Homo sapiens: one gene and its partners. The protein of the gene in region 3 purifies or fractionates together with the protein of the main gene of each other region. This does not show direct contact. Each region holds a gene or a part of one and is shown on either strand. Other genes may lie near its edges.

The links. Proteins that work in one complex are often made in the same cells at the same time.
Region 1: the proteins of NRG1 (region 3) and PGAP1 purify together in Homo sapiens (affinity purification with mass spectrometry; 3 studies listed by BioGRID and IntAct, with this or other methods). This does not show direct contact.
Region 2: the proteins of NRG1 (region 3) and INTS7 purify together in Homo sapiens (affinity purification with mass spectrometry; 3 studies listed by BioGRID and IntAct, with this or other methods). This does not show direct contact.
Region 4: the proteins of NRG1 (region 3) and RHOBTB3 purify together in Homo sapiens (affinity purification with mass spectrometry; 3 studies listed by BioGRID and IntAct, with this or other methods). This does not show direct contact.

The regions. Positions count from the first base shown.
Region 1 is NC_000002.12:196,909,708-196,913,207, forward strand, and holds part of PGAP1 (GPI inositol-deacylase), read right to left. Parts: intron 3,347-3,500; coding exon 3,175-3,346; intron 1-3,174.
Region 2 is NC_000001.11:212,004,558-212,008,057, forward strand, and holds part of INTS7 (integrator complex subunit 7), read right to left. Parts: intron 2,893-3,500; coding exon 2,693-2,892; intron 2,205-2,692; coding exon 2,082-2,204; intron 1-2,081. UniProt on the Homo sapiens protein: Component of the integrator complex, a multiprotein complex that terminates RNA polymerase II (Pol II) transcription in the promoter-proximal region of genes.
Region 3 is NC_000008.11:32,554,811-32,558,310, reverse strand, and holds part of NRG1 (pro-neuregulin-1, membrane-bound isoform isoform HRG-alpha proprotein), read right to left. Parts: intron 1-3,500. UniProt on the Homo sapiens protein: Direct ligand for ERBB3 and ERBB4 tyrosine kinase receptors. Concomitantly recruits ERBB1 and ERBB2 coreceptors, resulting in ligand-stimulated tyrosine phosphorylation and activation of the ERBB receptors.
Region 4 is NC_000005.10:95,786,836-95,790,335, reverse strand, and holds part of RHOBTB3 (rho-related BTB domain-containing protein 3), read right to left. Parts: intron 1,575-3,500; coding exon 1,478-1,574; intron 1-1,477. UniProt on the Homo sapiens protein: Rab9-regulated ATPase required for endosome to Golgi transport. Involved in transport vesicle docking at the Golgi complex, possibly by participating in release M6PRBP1/TIP47 from vesicles to permit their efficient docking and fusion at the Golgi.

The sequences.
Region 1 (3,500 bases), on a different chromosome or scaffold from region 3:
TCGTCTCAGCCCAAAATCTCCTTAAGCTGATAAGCAACTTCAGCAAAGTCTCAGGATACAAAATCAATGTACAAAAATCACAAGCATTCTTATACACCAACAACAGACAAACAGAGAGCCAAATCATGGGTGAACTCCCATTCACAATTGCTTCAAAGAGAATAAAATACCTAGGAATCCAAATTACAAGGGATGTGAAGGACCTCTTCAAGGAGAACTACAAACCACTGCTCAAGGAAATAAAAGAGGACACAAACAAATGGAAGAACATTCCATGCTCATGGGTAGGAAGAATCAATATCGTGAAAATGGCCATACTGCCCAAGGTAATTTACAGATTCAATGCCATCCCCATCAAGCTACCAATGACTTTCTTCACAGAATTGGAAAAAACTACTTTAAAGTTCATATGGAACCAAAAAAGAGCCCGCATTGCCAAGTCAATCCTAAGCCAAAAGAACAAAGCTGGAGGCATCACACTACCTGACTTCAAACTATACTACAAGGCTACAGTAACCAAAACAGCATGGTACTGGTACCAAAACAGAGATATAGATCAATGGAACAGAACAGAGCCCTCAGAAATAATGCCGCATATCTACAACTATCTGATCTTTGACAAACCTGACAAAAACAAGCAATGGGGAAAGGATTCCCTATTTAATAAATGGTGCTGGGAAAACTGGCTAGCCATATGTAGAAAGCTGAAACTGGATCCCTTCCTTACACCTTATACAAAAATCAATTCAAGATGGATTAAAGATTTAAACGTTAAACCTAAAACCATAAAAACCCTAGAAGAAAACCTAGGCATTACCATTCAGGACATAGGCGTGGGCAAGGACTTCATGTCCAAAACACCAAAAGCAATGGCAACAAAAGACAAAATTGACAAATGGGATCTAATTAAACTAAAGAGCTTCTGCACAGCAAAAGAAACTACCATCAGAGTGAACAGGCAACCTACAACATGGGAGAAAATTTTCGCAACCTACTCATCTGACAAAGGGCTAATATCCAGAATCTACAATGAACTCAAACAAATTTACAAGAAAAAAACAAACAACCCCATCAAAAAGTGGGCGAAGGACATGAACAGACACTTCTCAAAAGAAGACATTTATGCAGCCAAAAAACACATGAAGAAATGCTCATCATCACTGGCCATCAGAGAAATGCAAATCAAAACCACTATGAGATATCATCTCACACCAGTTAGAATGGCAATCATTAAAAAGTCAGGAAACAACAGGTGCTGGAGAGGATGCGGAGAAATAGGAACACTTTTACACTGTTGGTGGGACTGTAAACTAGTTCAACCATTGTGGAAGTCAGTGTGGCGATTCCTCAGGGATCTAGAACTAGAAATACCATTTGACCCAGCCATCCCATTACTGGGTATATACCCAAATGAGTATAAATCATGCTGCTATAAAGACACATGCACACGTATGTTTATTGAGGCACTATTCACAATAGCAAAGACTTGGAACCAACCCAAATGTCCAACAATGATAGACTGGATTAAGAAAATGTGGCACATATACACCATGGAATACTATGCAGCCATAAAAAATGATGAGTTCATATCCTTTGTAGGGACATGGATGAAATTGGAAACCATCATTCTCAGTAAACTATCGCAAGAACAAAAAACCAAACACCGCATATTCTCACTCATAGGTGGGAATTGAACAATGAGATCACATGGACACAGGAAGGGGAATATCACACTCTGGGGACTGTGGTGGGGTCGGGGGAGGGGGGAGGGATAGCATTGGGAGATATACCTAATGCTAGATGACACATTAGTGGGTGCAGCGCACCAGCATGGCACATGTATACATATGTAACTAACCTGCACAATGTGCACATGTACCCTAAAACTTAGAGTATAATAAAAAAAAAAAAAAAAAAAAAAAAAAAAAATTAAGATAATGCAAATTTTTATAGGTAAGAAGCTATATACATTTACTAACCAGAAAGAATTCTTTCTAAAGATTTTCATCTACTCATATAATATTCCTATAAGCAGTGAGGATAATCTCTGGCTTTTTTTAACAATAAGTTGAGATAACAGACATTTAATTCTTATTCTGTGACGTTATCACTATTTGATTAGACGATGTCAATCACAAACTCCTACTTTTCATTCAAAATTCCTGCAAGATTATAGTATTATCTACGGTTTTATTTCCTATGTTAATGTACTTCAATTAAGAGGCAGTACAGCATGCAAAGGTTAAGAGCACAAGCCCAGAAGCAATTTTGCCAGGGTCAAATACTGGTTTCACTACTTTCTTGCCACATGACTCTGGGCAAGAACGTTATCTTGGCCTTTTTCTATCCATAAACATGAGGATAATAATGGTGCCTACCTCATGGGACTGCAGTAAGGATTAAGTGTGGTAACACATCACATGAAGTCTTTAAAATCCATAACATACTAAGAGCTCAATAAATATTAGGAATTATATCTCATTATATAAAGTGTTAGCATACCTTTGTACTTAAAAACTAGACATTGCTACTATCTTACTTAAATATAAGCTTATTTTGGATACAGTCCTAAAACAGTTAACAAAGCATAGGAAGTTTAAACACATCTTAAGAGACAGGGTACCATCCTCAAAAATAACTAAACTGGCCAGGCATGGTGGCTTATGCCTGTAATCCCAGCACTTTGGGAGGCTGAGATAGGCAGATCACTTGAGGTCAGCAGTTCAAGACCAGCCTGGGCAATACGGCAAAAATCCCAGATACTTGGAAGGCTGAAGCACGAGAATCGCTTGAACCTGAGAGGTGGAGGTTGCAGTGAGCTGAGATTGCACCACTGCACTCCAGCCTGGGAGAAAGAGCAAGACCCTGTCTTTAAAAAAAAAAAAAAAAAAAAAAAAAAACTAAACGGAAGCCCTAGTGCCTAGAAATTATAAAACACATGTCAACCATGTTAAGATGCTATGGACAGACAAAACTTAACAGTAGTTTCAATTATAAGCCTAAGTTCAATAATATAAAGAGACAGACACTCAGAATTGGAGGTGCTGATTTGCAACTGAGTTGCTTCATACATGGATAAATCTGTAGCATACTCCTAGGGGAATAGCCACAGAGATTGATTTATTTAATCTTAAATAACAATGGGGAGGTTAATGTTCATGTAACAGTACTCACCTGTAATGAAACGATCTAATGGCATCACAGGAGCAACATGAGGTGTGGCTTGTGTAATAAGAAGATTTATCAGATCATGCTTAAAATTTTTCAGTGTAAGCAATGCTCTTGCAACAAGGCCACCCATAGAATGACCAATTATTGCCACACTTTTTGGAGCAAATTCTTGACCCTATTAAAATAAATCACCAGGTCATAATTGCGGCTTTGTATCATTTTTAAAATACTAAATATTTCTCTCTGCATATGACCAATTTTATAGGAAAAAGAAAATCAAACTATTTATATAACCTCCCATCATAAGGTACAGAAATACATTTTCATAT
Region 2 (3,500 bases), on a different chromosome or scaffold from region 3:
ATGCACTGGAAGACAATATTATAAAGTTACCAATTTCTTACAAACTAATCTTTATATTCAGTGTAATCCCAATCAAACTGTTAAATTTGACAAGCTGATTCTGAAATTTATATAGAATTGTCAAGGACTAACAAAGTATGAGTATTCCAAATATATAAAAAATAACTATGAATCAACAGAAAAATAGGCAAGAGACCTGAATAGCCATGTCATAAGAGAAAATCCAAATGGTCAATAAACATATTAAAAAGGTGTTCAATTTCTTTAATAATCAAGGAGCTACACATAAAAAGTACAACTTCTAAACTGGTAAAAAACGTAAGTCTGATAATTCTATGTGTTGGTACGGATGTGATTAATGGACGCCCTCATACACAGCAGGAATGTAAACTGGTTCATTGACTTTGGAAAACAGTTTGACATCATCTGTTAAAACTGAAGATACGCATTTTCTGTAAGTCAGAAATTTCATTCCCAGGTATACACTCTAAAGAAATTTGCGTGTGTGAACTGGGAGACAAACAGAAGAATGTTCTGCACTGTTTGCAATAGGCCCATGCGGAAATAACCCATCGAGAGCAAATAAACTGTGATACATTCATACAATGGGATAGTACATTACAATTAAAGGGGAAAGACATGGATGAGTCTCACCAGTGTAATGCTGAGCAAAAGAAACAAAAACAAAGCTAAACAGTATTCTTTAGGAAGACATGTGAAGAAGGTAAAAGAAGAGCAAAGAAATTATTATCATGAAAGTCAAAATGGTGGTTTGCTTTTGGAAGGTGTAAAGTTTCAACCAGGAAGGACCACGCAAGGGAAGGAGGCAGGGTTCTGTGATCCTGTAATGTTCTATTTCTAGCTGGATGGTAGTTGCATGGGTTTTCACTTAAAAGTATTTAAAATATTTATACATTTTACATACTTTTCTCACTTAAAGGTATTTAAACTATTTATATATTTTACATACTTTTCTGTATGTATGATCTATCTCACAATAAGAAAAAAATGAGAAGGAATAATACTGTGCTTCTCACTCATCTTTCTAAATAACTGGGTTTGGTTCTTTGTACAAATTCTCTAAAATGACTAAAGTGGCTGGGCACATTCTCTTCTTGGAAAGATAGCATTATTTAGTAGAAAAAGCAATAAGACTAGGGATCAGAGGACAGAAGCTCTCTTAATTAAATTCTTAATTTACTTCTCTTAAGATGCTCTCTTAAGCATATTAAGTCTCTCTGAACCCTAACTGCTTATCTATTAAATGCAGATTTAACAACTGCCCTTATCTTGGGATATCTGTGACTATCAAATCATAATATAGTAAATTAAAAGATGTTTAGAAAACAACAAACAAACAAACAGAAAAACAAACACAGCAGTTTAGTTTTAATAATCTGAAATTCAAAGATTTTTAATCCACTGGAGTCATGATGAAGCTGAGAGATAAAAACTACCGTTCCATTTTAAATAGCATTATTTGCAAAATGGTGTTATTTCTATCGGTAATGGGTAAACAAACAGGGTTCTATTTTGAGAAAAAAATAAACATAAAATATTAATTTAACCTAACAGATGGTAAGAGATGGTGTCAAAGATGCACATTAAAAGTCTAAAGAGTGAGATCTGCTCTTCTGTTTACAAAAGAAGACTTAGGAATGTCTTCAGCTCTCCAGGAAGAGAGAAATATATTTCCCAAGTTGCCCATCCAGCCCTACCTCCATTACAGATAACATTCAGCCCCTAAATTTTTCTCCCCAAATTGACTGAAAAATACAAGAATAAAAAAACCAAACCAATGTAATTGGGCTTCTCAATTAGCCTTAGTGCCACTATGGGAGAATGAACAAGCAACTGAGTGGCAAGTTTCACTGACTAAAACAAACATTGAAGTATAGAAGTTTTATGTATTTATTGTGCCACTTATAAAATAACTGCCACAAACATCAACAATGCTTTTAGAAGTTTTTCATATTCAACCACTTAGAAGATGACAAAGACAATATAAAAATGCAAAACATTTTACTATATTATAATGTTATATTATTTTTTCTATATAAAATGTTACAAGTTCTACATACCTGAATATTCTCCCTACTCCAAGTATGTGGTGTTTTATTAGCAAGTAATTTCAGATCTTGAATAGCAAGTCTCTTTACTGCCTTCCTGGGATCATTCTTCAAATACTGCAACAGAAGCTGAATCTATAAAGGAAATAAGTCACTCCATAAACAATACTGTAACTGAAATGATCATTAGAAATGCAGTGTAGTTTAGTGAAACTTATAAAGGGACAGGACTCACTTCAAATCAGAGCCCTGTCACTCACTAGCTATGTGCCCACATTTGGGCCTCTTTCTCCATGTTTGTAAAATACTACCATTTAACTTTAAAGTTTTAGCACAGGCCCTGGCATTTTACAGATACTCAATCCTTTCTTTTTTTTTTTTTATACGGCCAACTTCACACCCAGCCATGTACTCCATAACATCTCATTTTCCTCAAGGGCTCCCAACAATCAGTACTGTGAACAGAGAGAATAAAAAAGCAAGCAAAAGCAAATTAATCTGACCTTTATTAGAGAAAAGAACCTTAATGTCCTCAAGACTTGTGGGCCACTTTCTTATTTCTAATCATATATTTAATATGTAAGTTTACCAAAGATAGGCAGTTTAAAGAAAATTGAAATTACCTGCTTAGGTGTATCAACCAAAGATGACGCTGCAAGCAGAGTGAAAGTGTGCAAAGACACAATCACCATTTTGGTGGACGGATAGGATGTGACCAGCTGTTGTAAAAGCTGACGAGCACTGGAAGCCAAGATTGCATCATGGTGCATGTGCTGTAGAATGGGTATCAATTTTAGCTTCAAGTCTACTGGTGTCGCTAAACCTAGACACAAAAATAATTCTCAAGGTATTTGTGATCACCATCCTTAATAATATTCCAGATTTAAAAGCTGTGACTCATTTAGCAAAATTGCACTTGAAAAACACAGTATACTAATATATTTATAACATTAAAGATTATACTAGAACCAATTGATAAATTCAATATTTTTTCCTAAGTATTTATCTTGACATTAACTTTTCAATGATTATAAAACTACATGCTGATAATAAAAACTGCCTTTAAAAAGCACAGTAGAAAGCAAAGTCATATTTGCTGCCTATTTCCTCTCATTGTCATAGTAAAAAAATTATACATACACATATACATATATATACACAAACACACACACTTGATGGCTACAGTCTGATTATACTTATGATTTTAATTATTTCCTTCAACAACTAAATCATAATCAGGATGTGAATAAACTGTGTGTAGAATGGTTTCGAAGTCCTCTGAACTTTGTGTAGTAAATGCCTTTCTTTATTGCATACACGACTGGATCCATGAAGACTAACCCTAATCCACGTTTTCCTGTCAACAGTGGAGCGAAACCAACAAATCTTTTCTCTATGGCATGGCTTTGTGGTCATGGTGAACACAAATTT
Region 3 (3,500 bases):
AGTGAAAACCGAATGCATAATATTTATTCTGTAATCAGTAGCATATTGCAAGTAATCACATTTCCCCACGCCATGCACAGTCCAATGTAGAGGCTCTTTCAGTCAAGGCGGCCTTGTGTGGATTCAGTCTGAGAAGGCGATGACTCCGTAGAGGCCACAGGGACTATACTCTACGCTCTCCCTTAGCTTCTGTTGATTCCTGGAGAACGATAGCGGTCCTTGTCTTTTCTGCCTTCTTTTAAGTGGATCGCTATCCTTTTGGATGGGGCATAAATGATATGCACAACATTTAAAACTCCACTGTTCCTTTCTAAATATCAAAATATAATAAGTAACTATTTCTATTGACATTTCTCCTTCCTGTCAGGTTGAGGGCACTTGGGAACACACAATATCATCAACATGTTTCAAAAAAAGAAAAGAAAAACCCTCAAGACATAAGTCTCCCATTTCTATTCAATTTAATATATGGAAAATCATGTATTTCATTTTCCATTCAACTCAGTATTCAAATTATTGGTTTCCTCTTGACAAACCTACCCGCTCATTTCCATAATGCCTGTAAGTATTACTCTTTCCCAAAATGGATAATGCATGAGCAATCCCCCGGGAAGGTTCCAACTCTACAGCAAGGTGACCTCACTAAAAAAAATTATAATCATAATCTATTTTCTGTATTTCATCTAATCCTTCTGGGGACAATATACCAGCCTTCAATATTTTTCCCAGAAATAGATGACAATCAGTTTCAATATGACTGCTATTATAACTGTTTCTAAAGATCTACCATCTCATGGGCTTCAAGACAGACCCCTCTCTTTTGTTACTTATTTTTAAACAACTGAAACAACAGAATGGAAAAGGAATACTATAATTTTAAACAATAAAATGTTGTGCATAATCCCAATACTGTACTTCCATTTCACCCTGTTGGCAGAAAAGAGATAAAATACCAAAAGATATAAAAACAGATTTGATACGTACACACAAAAACAATGCCTACTTGCTGGGCGCAGTGGCTCATGCCTGTAATCCCAGCACTTTGGGAGGCCGAGGTGGGTTAATCACAAGGTCAGGAGATCGAGACCATCCTGGCTAACACAGTGAAACACCGTCTCTACTAAAAATACGAAAAAAATTAGCTGGGTGTGGTGGCAGGCGCCTGTAGTCTCAGCTACTTGGGAGGCTGAGGCAGGAGAATGGCATGAACCCAGTGGGGGGAGCTTGCAGTGAGCTGAGATCGCACCACTGCACTCCAGCCTGGGTGACAGAGCAAGACTTAGTCTCAAAAAAAACCAAAAACCAAAAAACAAAAACCAATGCCTACTTGATACACAAATGAAAAATTGTGTTAACTTACTATACGTAATAACACACGTTACTTGTTTTGACAAAAATATCACTGCAAATTGGAATTTTGACATCTCCTTGTAAAGGCTGGTTTTAGATTCCCTGTGGGATTGCTAAAGAGACTGTGCTATCCTTTAAAAATGCAATGTAAGTCTCTAAAATTGGGAGATTATATGCAACAAAGGGATGAGTTATAAACATATACAGTTTTAAAAACTGGCTATATCGAAATTTGAACTTTATTTATAAAATAGGCCATCTAATAATGAGATGCATTTTCACCTGATGATAAAATTCATACATTAAAACTACTAAAAAGCTTGCATTGATGTAGTACTGTGAAAGTGAACAAAAGGTTTTCTTTTCCTTTTTTCATATTACTCCATAACTAAAGCCAGGATTATTCAGCAATCTTCCATATTTCCTACTCATTGCTCTGTAATCTCTCTGTAGAAATAATGGTGGTTAAGATAAGGTGCAATAACAACTATCTGCTAATAGGTCAAATAAAAATGAGTCATATTTTATGGTGGAAACTTACTACTTTTCTCACCAAGGGAAAATGCTAGTTGCTCTGTCATTCTAATTTTATGCTAAATTCATTTAATATGGATATGATTTTAGCTGATTTATTGGTTGTAAAAAATGTTACTGCTTCAATTATCCCTAGCTCAGATTTCTTTTATGTATTACTTCAATCCTATTTAATTATCAAAAACGTACATAATTCTTTTTCAAAGTTGTCATTATTACTTAAAGAATATGTAAAGAATAAGTAAAGTCAAATTACTTTTTCAAAGTCCAAATATTAAACTGTATGACATGGACAATATTCAGCCAGGTATGACCTACAAAACTGACAATTTCATATGATTCAATCTAATAAAACATTCTGTGACTCTCATATCATTGAAAGTAAAACTCCACAGCTGCCCAGAGAAGGCAGCTCCCTGCCCATCAAAGCTGTGGAATGAAAGGTTCGGGGCACTGTGGCAGTCAAAGACTATTCCCATCAACGACAGATTTCTTGGAGCAAGAAACAATGGGAACAATATTACACTTTAAAAAGGGAAGGGGAGTAATATCCTGAGAGTAACTCATGTCAAAGATAACAAGTACAGGGTGGAATTAACATAAGCAGGTAAACCATAAATAACAAGGCCTGTGTGACCATATTAAAATATCAGCCCCGCCGGGCGCGGTGGCTCACGCCTGTAATCCCAGCACTTTGGGAGGCCAAGGCGGGCGGATCACGAGGTCAGGAGATGGAGACCATCCTGGCTAACACGGTGAAACCCCGTCTCTACTAGAAATACAAAAAATCAGCCGGGCGTGGTGGTGGGCGCCTGTAGTCCCAGCTACTCGGGAGGCTGAGGCAGGAGAATGGCGTGAACCCGGGAGGCGGAGCTTGCAGTGAGTCGAGATGGCACCACTGCACTCCAGCCTGGGTGACACAGTGAGACTCCGTCTCAAAAAAAGTACATAAATAAAATCAGCCCATGATCCACAAGAATTAGTCACTCAAACCTGTGTTCAAAAATGTGCACTCAATCAAAGTGGGGCTCCTAAACATTTGTTGCCCCTGGGTTGAGGAAACAGAGAGATAGGAAGAGATGAAAACAAATGTGTTAGTAAAGATCTGTTGTCCAACTTTGATGCTTTCACCTATAGTTTTCCAATGCCAGAGTGAAACTCTTAAATAGCACTAAATCTCTTTGTGGGTACCATGTGCACTTCAGTGGGAGGGAGCTGTTGTAAGGCGTGATTGGAAGGTATTTAAAGATGCTTGATTCTCTTGGGGGAAATTCCTAGAGGGAATTAATCTGACAGATGTCCCCTTGCAAGCTAACCACTGCATCAACATCATCAGAATAATGTTTTAAAATATTCTAATTTAGAATACTTAATGAATTAGGGCTATGTGGTCCAGCTGGAAAACAAACTCCAGTTGAGGCAGCTAACATGTATGGAATCGGGACTCTGTTCTTCCAGTAGATTGCCCAGAATACTGCAGTAACTTAAAAAAAAAAAGAGAGAGAGAGAGAAGAAAAAAGCAGTCTTTGGGGAATAGCAGTGTGATGCTCCTGGAGCACCCTCTGGAGGCCAGAAAAAGGTGACATGGGGCATAGGAAGAATGAAGAGAATTCTGA
Region 4 (3,500 bases), on a different chromosome or scaffold from region 3:
ATTTAACTTTTAGCAAGCTTCTTAAATAACTATAGAAGCAGCTACTTAAATAACTATAGAAGAATGTTCCTTCTGACAGCAAGCATACACAAGCCTTATCTTTATGAACTGACTGTTTTTTCCTTGCACAAAGTACATAGCTAATAAATAACTGTTGTTTTGTTTTGATGTGATTATGCTTCTCTACTGTACTAATAGTTGACTTATATAAGGAGGCTCCTAATAGACATATAATGTTTGTTGACTGGCTGAATACATCTCCCAAAAACGGATTGTGTGTTCCTGGGTTTTCTTTAACTGCACAAGTAGCTGAATAAAAACAAGAGATTTTTACTCTTTTTTCTTTTAGAGACAGAAGTCTCGTTATGTTGCTCAGGCTGGACTCAAACTCCTGGGTTCAAGTGATCCTTCAGCCTCAGCCTCCCAAGTTGGCTGGGATTACACCGAGGTGGAATCACCATCTTGACCATATGATTTTTATATCTTTTACCAGCAGAGTCTTTTTTACGAAGTAAAATTTTAGGTAGAACTCAAGATATGAAACAGATAAAGTGGAACTACTATGACTGAAGGAGGGAGGGAAGAGTCCAAGAACTGTAAATTTTAGCCTTCTCTTTCCCTTTCCCTTACTCCCTCTCTCTCTCCTTCTCCTCACCCACTCCCTACTTTCTGTCCCCCACCCTAGAAGACACTTCAGTTATCTCCACGGAGATTTATTTGTCCAGATTGTGAAACTCCTTGATCAGGTAATCTTTCACTTCCTTTTCTTTTTAGCTCAAATTTTCCTTGAGTCTATGCTAGATAATAACATGAGCAAACCACTGCATCTAAACTGTCTATTCTGACAACTATTATATTTTCATTTTTTTCTTTTTATGCAGTACTCAGTAGTTCACACTTTGGTTTTAATTTTTATAATTTACCTTAGAAAGCATATTACATACACTCCCAGTAAGTTTCACAACATTTTTTATATATGAAAAACTGTTATTCCAAAGTAATATAAGGGACTCCCATATAGGTATACTCAGTAAATACAGATATCCAGTACAATAAAGCTAAATATAATATAGTTAACAAGAGTTAAATTCCTTTATAAAAAATTTTTAAATCTGTACTGTTTAAACTTTGCTGCTGACTTAGGTAGTTAGAACTAAGATATCACTTTTCACAACCAAATGTCACCTGAGGACACATTTTGTCACCTTATCTATTTCAGGGAAAGAAAATGCATTTAAAAACGGATGGAGCTATAAAATAATCATTAGAAAACTTCTTGTGTAACACAGGTTAAGGCACTTATGTAACACAGGTGACTATAAATTGTTTCCTCAATTACCACACTGCATAATTTACAAGAAATTTATTACATTGACTATTCTTATTTTGCTAAAAGTACTACTTCTACAACTTATGTCTCAAATCTAAGAACAAAGAACATAAAGTTTTCTTTTCAAAACAGAAATTAGCAATCTACCTGAAAGATCCTGAAATTCAGGCTTTTGACTGAAGATGAGGTAGTTAGTAGCAATGAAATGAAGTAGCCAGGTTGAAAGGCAATCAGAGTGGTGAAACTGCAAGAAAAATGAAAAGTGAAATAATATTGCACATAATGGCCACTGGTATGATAAGATCAAGAGAACGGCCTGGGAGCAATCACGGAGAGCCCATATTCATGTTTAATGTGCCTTTACCTGATGCAGCTTTCAGTATACTGTGACAGCAGACAGGATGAGGGAGCACTATTAGCAAATAACGTTAAAAGTACATTCTCGGAAGAAGCCAGGCCAACAGCGAATAACAATCTACGGCTGCCGGAGTGGCCAAACGTCTTTAAGCAATGCATGGCTGCATCTGAGGTTCTTGAAGATTTAATTTGAGCTTTTAATCTGAAGCCACGGACTTCAATAACTGCACCTGTATCTGTGTAGTAGATGATGGTGAGCAATGTTAAAACAAGTTCACCTGAGGAGCAAGCCAAAAAATATTTTGAGGAGGAAACACCATCGGCCGAAGGCATGGGTTTCAATGTGTAAATGTTTCTAAGAGAAAGCTGTGGCTAAATATTTGCTTTTAATGAGATGTACAGTAAACTGAGCAGGATTTCCAGCTCCATTCTCCTCATTCTGAGTTCCAATAGCTGCTAATGGAGGGAAAACTCCAAGCAAGCAGGCCACTGACATCATCACCTTGGTGCCCATCCAGTGACACTCACTGATCCATCCAACCACCAATGCAGATGACAGTAACTTGCTGGCAGGCAACTTTGGCACATGAGTATAGAACTCTTTTTTTTATTATTATTATTGTGGTACAATATGTGTAACATAAAATTTACCATTTTAACAATCCTTAAGTGTACAGTTAAATGTCACTAATAAGTGCATACACATGGTGGGGCAACCCAACACCACTATCCATTTCCAGGCCTTTTCTATCACCCCAAACTGAAACTCTGTACCATTAAACAATCTGTTTTCTCCCTATCCCTATCAGATCCTAGCACCCACTGTTTTACTTTCTGTCTCTATGAATTTCACTATTCTAGGTACCTCATATAAGTGAAATTCTAAAATATTTGTCCTTTTATGTTTGGCTCATTTAGGGTAATATTTTCCAAGTTTCATCCATGTTGTAGCAGATATCAAAATTTCACTCCTTCTTAAGGCTGAATAATATCCCATTGTACATATATACCACATTTTGTTTATCTCTTCACCTGTCAATGGACATTTGTGTTGTTTCCACCTTTTGGCTAAGTATAGCTCTTCTAAGGAGATGCAAAAATATTAAATAAGCAACAAGTAATGCTAAATTGAAGAAAGATTAGTAATCTCTAAACCTTAATAAAAAAACTCAAGGATATGCTTTTTTTTTTTTTTAAAGCTGTATAGTGTGAGAGTATTTAAACACAAATTCACAGGTCCCTCTTATATTCATTATATAAAATCAATTTTTGAACTGGAAATAAATTTATAGTTTATCTAATCCCACATAACATTTTAACAGTTTTTTTCCTCCCCTTATCTTTTAGCAGATGAATGTGTGCAATCTCAAGGGAAAAGAATAAGAACCTTCAGCTTTTTAGAGAAGCCACCACTACTGTTACGTGATTAACCCAGAGCAGATAACAAAACACCAGGAGGTTAGGACATTGCCTTAAGGGCTGTGACTGAGAAGGAAAAGGGAGGTCACAGAAATAAACAGCTGGCTACAAAGCATGCTTAAAAATGAAGAATTTTATTTTTGACCAAGATTTAAGATATTATCCAAAATATCTTAAATACAGTAGGATGACACATCTGAATAAGCTTTCCGCTTCCAGGAATGAAAGAACTGAGGAATGAGGAATTGGTAGCACATGTGGGGGTTTGGGAAGTAGATTTCAACAGAGCAGTTCTAGCTAATGTACAGACCTGGCCCAGATTCATAGTCTAGGGACTCTGTAACAGGAATGGAACATGTCTCACTGTAAAAACTAGGTTTTAGAAGGATATGTG